2 separate regions of the Homo sapiens genome follow, and region 1 is linked to region 2. Evidence: fine-mapped expression QTL. A gene starts in region 2. The other region holds a variant in brackets. All regions are shown on one strand. Distances are between the middles of the regions. Region 1 overlaps ATF1 (activating transcription factor 1). Region 2 holds the start of ATF1 (activating transcription factor 1).

Region 1 (4,394 bases), 56 kb after region 2:
ATAGGTTATATAAAGATTTATTTCTGTAAATAAGAGACCTAACAGAAGGAAACCGGTCTGTGAAAGATGGCCTTGTAAACATGAAATTATTCCAAACTTTGTGCATAATGAGGGAAATGTTAAAGCAGTGAGGTTCGCTTTTTGTCAGCCGCTAGACTGACAACCATTTTAAAATGTTCATAACAGGCACTCTCATGTACTGCCCCTGGGAATGTAAATGGTACAAATACTCTGGAGGACATTCTGGCATTTTTTCCCTTTTTTCTTTCTGGTTTGACTCTGGGATTTTTTTCCTTCCTTTTTTCCCCCCTTATTTCTCTGTACTTCAATGAATATAAATTGGCACTATCTCTTGACTTTAAGTGAATATAGCTTGTGATCCTTCAAGAAATACATGTGTAGAAATACACGTAAAGAATGGAGGCTGAGTGGGTGGCTCATGCCCATAATCCCGACACCGTGACCAGGAGTGAGACCAGCCTAGGCAACATACTGAGACCTCATCTCTACAAAAATAAAATTAGCTGGTGTGGTGGTGTACACCTGTAGTCCCAGCTACTTGAGAGGCTGAAGTGGGGATATCTTGAGTCCAGGAGGTCAAGGTTGCAATGAGCTGTGATTGTGCCACTGCACTCAGCCTGGTTGACAGAGTGAGACCCTGTCTCAAAACAAAAGAAGAAAAAAGAAAAAGAATGTTTACTGGAAACCACTTAAAACAAACAAACAAACAGAGCTTAAAGGTAAAAATAAAGTCTTTTTGTGAGGGGAAAGATTTTGTACAGTCCTTTTAAAGATGTGTACTAAAAAGCAAGTTGCAAATAGTATCTACATATATAGCATAAAAATCTTAAAATAGTACTGTTTCTTTCTTTCTTTCTTTTTCTGAGACAGAGTCTTGCTCTGTTGCCCAGGGTGGAGTGCAGTGGCGCGATCTTGGCTCACTGCAACCTCCACCTCCCAGCTTCAAGTGATCCTCCTGGGTCAGACTCCCAAGTAGCTGGGATTACAGGCATGTGCCACCACAGCTAATTTTTGTATTTTTAGTAGAGATGAGGTTTTGCCATGTTGGCCAGGCTGGTCTCGAACTCCTGACCTCAGGTGATCTGCCCGCCTTGGCCTCTTAAAGTGCTGGGATTACAGGCATGAGCCACCATGCCTGGCCAATACTTCCGATTTCTATATGTATATAAACTTACATATGACTTCACAGAAATGTTTTAAGAGGACATGCACAGAACTGAGTATTTGCTCAAGCATTGTTTGTAATTTGAACTTAAATAAAAGAAGTCATGTGTCAGAAGTTAACCAGAGGACCCATAATTTCACTCTTTGGTATTTATTCAAGAGAAATGAAACCTTTCTACAAAAAGACTGGCACAAAAACATGCCTATGCAGCTAACCCTAGAAACATCGCAAGAGACTGGATACACAAATGGTGGTTATATTCATACAGTGAACTATGTCCAGCAGTGTGAAGGAACAAACCCCCATGCAGCAACATGGATGAACCTCAGATGGGCTGAGTGAAGGGACACCAGAGTACATAGTGTATGACACTCTTACATGAGGTTCTAGAATAGGAAAAAAACTAATCTCTGGTGATAAAAATCAAAACGATAGTTGCTTGGAAGGGGGCTGACCAGGAAGGGGCATGAGGGAACTTTCTGGGACAGTGGGAATGTTCTGTTGTCTTGACAGAGGTGTGGGTTATACAGGTATACACAATTGCCAAAACTGACTGAATTCTACACTTAAGATCTATGTATTCTCTGTGTGTAGATGATACTTTAAAGAGAAAAAAAGGTGACCACGGAAAATTACTGAAGAACATTTACCATTTAAAGAATGTGAAGTTTTTTCTAACATTGTTTTTTTAATGCTCATATTTAGAGAAGCTGCTCGAGAATGTCGCAGAAAGAAGAAAGAATATGTGAAATGCCTGGAAAACCGAGTTGCAGTCCTGGAAAATCAAAATAAAACTCTAATAGAAGAGTTAAAAACTTTGAAGGATCTTTATTCCAATAAAAGTGTTTGATTCCTAAGAAAGAAAATATTTTTGTGGACATGCATAAAAATTAAATGGATTTCCTAGTGGAGTTTTATAAATTAAAAGGTCAAAACTGAAGCTTTTTATTTAGGCTTTTCCAAATCAAGGATAAATATCTTACGCACGATATCTAGTGACAGAGGAGAAAGTGGAAAATGACCTCAAGGAAGCTACGGGCACAACTGGAAGC[T/C]TTGTAGAAATTAAACATATTCAAGGAGCAAGAAATGAACTTTCAGCAGTCTAAATTTTCTAAATAACCAATAGTTGCCAATCTAAAATGGCAGAGAAGATGAAATTTGATAAACTGAATTTTTTTTAAAAATCCATTTACCCTACAGGTTTGCATTTGTTTGCTGAAATTTACCTTTTTTTAGTTATATATATGTGTGTGTGTGTGTGTAATTTCTGCCAATAAATTCTAAATTACAAAGGTAAGAGAAAACCTAGTACATTACTAAATATATAAAGTATATGTTCTGATTATGTATACTTGTTCTAGTGTCAAGTCTTTTTAAGTGGGTTTTTAAAAGTTTGTTATTGGACTTGAATGGATTTTTGAGACTAGGTTAATTATTTTTGAGGTCTTATCCTAAAAGGCATCTAAGGTACATGAATGGAGTATGGTGATTTTATAACATTTTTTATCAGAATGGAAAAAGAACTGTTTAAAAGTTTGATACTTTTAAATAGTTGGTTTTTTTGCTTACTCTGGTAATGATTTTCTACAAATACATAATAAATTGTTTTTTTGAGTCTATATTCTGTATGCAGTTGAATATCCATTACTTATTCTGCTGTGCTTTAATAGAATGGAATGTTTACAGGCCCTTAAAATATTATTTTTAAAAAACCTTCTGAAGATACATACCAAAGTTTTTCCAAGAAGATTTTATAATCAATTTAATAATGTAAGGTTTATCAGATTCTATAATAGTATAGTTATTAAGGCAATTTTATGTTAGAGACTATTTTGTAATGTAGTGAGTGGTACCTTTATAAGAAAAGTGACTGCCAATATATTTTTATAGCTGATCTTTATAAATTCTAATGTTGAGTTTTTAATGATTATTTTAAATGTTTATATAGTTTAGTAAAATTTGCATCTCAAAGTATCATTTTTATATTATGGGACGTTTTCAGATTGGCTAATATTTGCATTGTAAATTTTGTATGCAGTTTATCTAAAATTCAAAAATACTGTCAGTACACCAGCGTTTAACATCTATATTCCAATTTGTATACAGTTTAAAATTGTACTGCAAAACTATTGTGTGCTCTTACACAGTATGCATCATATTGTTGTCTGTGAAATTAAAGGACATTTGATAGTCTACTGAATGTAAAATATAATGCTTGGTATATGAATGATAAGCTTGCTCCTGGCCATGCTGTTAATTATCCTAATGCTACGTAGAAATCTTCACTTAACTGATACATTTGTGTTTGACCCTCCTGATGAAATTTCTCATTAGAAGGGTCTTTTAAAATGGGACTCTGTTGACTTGGCAGCACTTTATGAAAAGAAAAAAAAGTTTGATCGCCAGGGGGATTACTTATATCACTTACTACCTTGTGTAAAGCCAGAATCTCAAACTGGTGGCCCGTTAGGCCTAAGAATATGAGGAGGTATGAGGTCACTGGGTTATGTCAAAAGACTTTTTCAACAGATGATAATATATTATTGGGTAGACACCGTGCTTGTTTACAACAGAGGTAGCCTAGCTCTTAGTGCCTTAACAGCTGGACATCTGCAAATATTTGTAAACTCTGCTGCCTTCAGACTTCTGGTGTAGGGCCTTGCTAACTAGACCCAGTTACTTACTCTAGCTGTATGAAACAGGTCAGGGCAAACCATTAATGGTTCCATAAATGCATAACAAATTATTTTCCTGGGTGTTTTTCTAATTGGAATCCAATGTGGGGCTTATCAAATTTTTAAGTGATTATAGTCCAAACATGAAATTAGACTTCCAAAATGCAAAAGACTAATCAAATTATTTCCTTAGTTCAACTTGCTATTTTACTTATCAATTTACTCATTTATATATTATATTGATAGAAATAGATTATTGTCCACAAACACATATAGGGCATATAAGATATTCCTTTAATATTGAACAGAGCAGGAAGAATGGGCATTTGTTAGCATTTTGGAATTCTTACTGTATTTATTCATTCAGCAATTATTATATTGCAACTACTAGGTTAAACCTGCATTCTCCAATTAAAATATGAGGTCACAGTAGTGATATAAAAATGTGTATTAGGCCAGGCGGGTGGCTCACACCTGTAGTCCCAGCACTTTGGGAGGCTGAGGCATTGGGATTGTGTGGCACCAGGAGTTTG
Region 2 (4,394 bases):
TAGAGACAGTGTCTCATCTGTCATGTAGGCTTGAGTGCAGTGGCATGATCACAGCTCACTGTATCCTCAAACTCCCGAGCTCAAATGATCCTCCTGCCTCAGCCTCCCCAGTAGATGGGATTACAGGCGCATGCCACCAGGACTGGTCGAGCGTAACATTTGATTTAGACCTAAGGCACTAAGGAAGAGGAGCTAAAGAAGTAGTCAAGGCACATTTTGAAGGTTTCATTTTTCAATAAAATTTCCAGGTTTTTATTTTTTTTCTTTGGAGACAGTCTCCCTCTGTGGCTCAGGCTGGAGTGCAGTGGCGTGATCTTGGCTCACTGCAACATCTGCCTCCCAGGTTCAAGCGATTCTCATGCTTCAGCCTCCTGAGAGGCTGGGATTACAGGTGTGTGCCACCACACCTGGCTAATTTTTGTATTTTTAGTAGAGACGGGGTTTCACCATGTTGGCCAGGCTGGTCTCGAACTCCTGACCTCAGGTGATCTGCCCTCCCCCACCTCCCAAAGTGCTGGAATTACAGTCATGAACCACGACGCCTAGCCCCTCCCCCGCTTTTTACTGATCAACTTTTGTTAAGCATTCTGTGGTCCACGGAAGAAAAAACCAAACACCAAAGAACAATAAACTTGTACAACCAGCCTTCCAGCCATCAATATTCTGGATTCCAGAATGATTGAGGCTGGACTTTGTTAATCATCGAAGGCTGGTATCTGAGAAACTCTTCCTCTCCCTTACCTTTATAGGCCACTTTTCTTTCAGTAATGCTGAAACACTGACTTAATAACAGTTGTCCCCTGGTCTAGCATTTAATAGGTAATCCACAATTTTTGCTGAATGTCAATAGCTAAACGTTAGTGACCTCTTAAGACTGTCTGGCAGAGTAAATCTTCGGCTTTATATCACATTCTCCGACCCAAAGGGCCAAAAATAGGCAAAGCTCTCTCCACTAAATCGGTTTCCTAAATTGGGGATCTCAAACTAGTAAAATTTCAGAAAACTTTCGGAACTTTTGTCAAGAGCATACTAAAAAAGTTTATCTTTTGTCGTTTACTATCATTAAAGCCATAAAACAGCATTTTACAAGGAAATTTTAAAAATTAAGAATAAGGCATAACTCCCTTCCAGAGAGGTAGACCCAAAAATATTCTGAAGTTTTTGTAATGCATTAAAATGACGGCATAACATTTTATTAACACTCTGTTACGTTTCTTTTTTCTTTTTTTTTGAGACAGTTTTGCTCTTGTTGCCCAGGCTGGAGTGCAACGGTGCGATCTCGGCTCACCGCAACCTCCGCCTCCCGGGTTCAAGCGATTCTCCTGCCTCAGCCTCCCAAGTAGCTTGGATTACAGGCATTCGCCACCACACCCGGCTACTTTTGTATTTTTTAGTAGAGACGGGGTTTCTCCATGTTGGTCAGGCTGGTTTCGAACTCCCGATCTCAGGTGATCCGCCCTCCTGGGCCTCCCAAAGTGCTGGGATTACAGGCATGAGCCACCGCGCCCGGCCACATCGTTATGTCTCATTGTAAATCCGTTTCTGTAGAAAATCCTTCCACATGGGTTAAAGGACACAACTCATTGTTACTTTATGGGATTAAGAAAAATCTGAGTAAGGCCGGGCACGGTGGCTCACGCCTGTAATCCCAGAACTTTGAGAGGCCGAGGCGGAGGATCACTTGAGCCCAGGAGTTCAAGACCAGCCTGAGCAACATAGAGTCCTCATCTCTTCAAGCCGAGCGTGGTAGCGCGCGCCTGTGGTCCCAGCTGCCCCATAGGCTGAGGTTGGAGAATCGCTTGAATCCCGGGGTTGGAGGCTGCAGTGAGTCGAGATCGAACCACTGCACTACAGCCTGGGCCACAGACCCCCGTCTCAATCTCGGAAAAAAAAAAGAGACTCCATCTAAAAAAAAAAAAAAAAAAAAAAAGCTGAGGAAGTCAAAGCCTTCACTCTTCATTTCTCCTTCCAAGAGGACAGGGCCGGCGTCGGTCAAGGTCAATTGGCAGGTGAGTTGACAGCGCCGCCACTAATCGATGAAAACGCCCCCCGCGAGCACCCAGCTGCTCATGGCCTCCGGAAGCGGACGTAGGGCGGGTGGGGTACAGCTCCTAAGGAGAAACGGAACCGCAGGCACCGTCCCTCTCCCGCTGCAGCCTGAGGAACGCGTTCCGAGGAACCCCTAGCCACAAGTCAGGACCGCGTACAAGATGGCGGCGCGTCACGTGGGCAGCGCGGTGACGCAGGACGGCGGCCCGCGCGGAGGCAGCGCCATAGCCTACCCCAAACGCACACTAGTGCTCAGTTTTGCCCCCCTCCCCTCCCCCGCCCCCGCCCCCGCCCCCAGGCTTGTGTAGATCATGCCGCCAGTAGCGGCCCTGACTGCCGAGGAAACGGTAGCTTAGGACAGTTGGCTGTTAAGTGACACTGATTCTCCCCGCCCCGCCTGACCCCCGAGAAGGAGGCTTGTCCCCCGCTGCGTGAGGGGGTGGGGAAGTGGGTAGTGAATTCGGATCTACCTGGGAGGGGGGAGTGGAAGTTCCCGCCCCGGAGAGCGGCGAGGCGGCAGCCACAGGTAAGTGGGGGGCGGGGAGGGACGTGCCCCGTGGCCCGGGCGGGGAAGGACGCGGGAACGTGGCGCCGGCGGGGACGCAGCGCGGGTCGCGCGCCTGGTGGGGGTCGCGCGCGGTGGTGGCGGTGGGGGAGGGGCGCAGCGGCAGGGGGAGGGGCCGCCCGCGCTTCCGGCCTCCGCGCCTCGGTGCAGAGCTGCGCTGCGCCCTTCCAGTCGTGCGTCTCCTCCTTTCCCTCGCCCCCAAATAAAAGTAAAGCCCGAAACCGCCCGCCGCGGGGTGGCTTTCGCCTCAGAAGCCGCCCTTTGCAGTCGCAGGCGCTAGCTCTCCGTGGGAGGTCTCGAGGTTGGGCCCGGAGCCGGGCGGAGGGCGGCGCGGATATGGCCTCGGCGCGGTGTCCGCCGAGCGGAGCCCGGGTCTGGTTAACCCCGCGACAGGGTCCTCGAAGCGCGTCGGCGCTGGCGACCCTGAGGGAAGAGGCGCGCCCCTTACCCTCCTGGAGCTTGCAGTCTAGCGGGCAACCGACGCACGGGCATTGCGCACGCCCCAGACAGTCCTGGAGAGATGCGCCTGGCAGCGGAGACAGAGTGGGGACAGTAGGCGGCTTTACCCCTGGCTAGGAATGACACAAGGGCGTCTGTACCCTTTGGGATGGGCGACCCAGCCGAGGGTGACTTTCTCTTTGATCTTGTATGTCAAAAAACGAAGCCTGGCATTTCTCACTTTGATCGACGCCGTGCAGCTGGCGGCTGAATCGCTTTGAAATGATTGCAATGTGAAATAATGTCTGGTTGTGGCGCTAGTGTTTTGAAGAGATTGGGCAACTGGTAGTCTTTGAGAACCTTTAGGGTTCAGAAGCTCGGCGTGGATCTGGCAGGCATCTTTGTCAAACTGGCCTCACCTGTGATGAGTTCGTAGGCATTTATGTCTCAGAATGCATTTTAACCTGAGGTTTTTGTTAACAGAAATGCGTTCTTCTAAAATGCTCTTTTTTCTTGGAGTTTATCATATGCAGTTATCTCCGTGTCTTAATTAGAATCAATACTGTTGCCCTAAAGTCGAATGTATTAGCTCTTTAATACTTGCCGTTATCTTTTAGGGTTAGGTTTGGTCTGTGAGCTATCTGTCCATTCCTACCCGATCACCAGCAGGTGGCAGTCCCTTCTGACTTTAAATATAGGGTGTGCTATCTTTGCCAGTTTTTGTTTTGTTTTGTTTGTTTGTTTGTTTGTTTTTAAATAGAGATGGTGTCAGAGGCGTGTGAACTAGAACAACTCCATCTTAAACAGGAGCTGGGTAAAATGAGGCTGAAACCTACTGGGCTGCATTCCCAGACAGTTAAGGCATTCTAAGTCACAGGATGAGACAAGTCAGCACAAAATACAGGTCATGAAGACCTTGCTGATAAAACAGGTTGCAGTAAAGAAGCCGGCCAAAACTGAAATGGCCACAAGAGTGACCCCTGGTCATCCTCACTGCTACACTCCCATCAGCGCCATTTACAAATCCCATGGCAATGTCAGGAAGTTACCCTATATGGTCTAAAAAGGGGAGGCGTGATTAATCCACCCCTTGTTTAGCCTATCATTGAGAAATAACAGTAAAAAGGGGTAACCAGCAGCCCTTGGGGCTGCTCTGTCTATGGAGTAGCCGTTCTTTTTATTCCTTTACTTTCTTCATAATGTTACTTTTACATCGCACTGTGGACTTGCCCTGAATTATTTCTTGCGCGAGATCCAAGAACCCTCAGTTGGGGCCTGGATCAGGACGCCTGTCCTGTAACATATTTCTGGCGACCACAAAGGGACTATAGTGCAGAAACCC

Evidence for each region. PIP is the estimated chance that this variant, and not a neighbour inherited with it, causes the effect.
Region 1: its variant is the best candidate, but not a certain one, in a credible set for the expression of ATF1 in esophagus muscle (GTEx, PIP 0.80).

What each region holds. Positions count from the first base shown.
Region 1 is chr12:50,817,744-50,822,137 of GRCh38, forward strand. It overlaps ATF1 (activating transcription factor 1), which reads left to right. Exons shown (of 7, transcript NM_005171.5): 7 at 1,892-3,419. The coding sequence ends at 2,036. Among named protein-coding and RNA genes, the nearest start is that of TMPRSS12, 23 kb to the right of the region's middle. The variant T/C (reference allele first, on the strand shown) is at 2,239.
Region 2 is chr12:50,761,733-50,766,126 of GRCh38, forward strand. It overlaps ATF1 (activating transcription factor 1), which reads left to right and starts at 2,369. Exons shown (of 7, transcript NM_005171.5): 1 at 2,369-2,575. RefSeq lists enhancers at 1-832, 3,133-3,232 and silencers at 2,323-2,402, 2,623-2,712.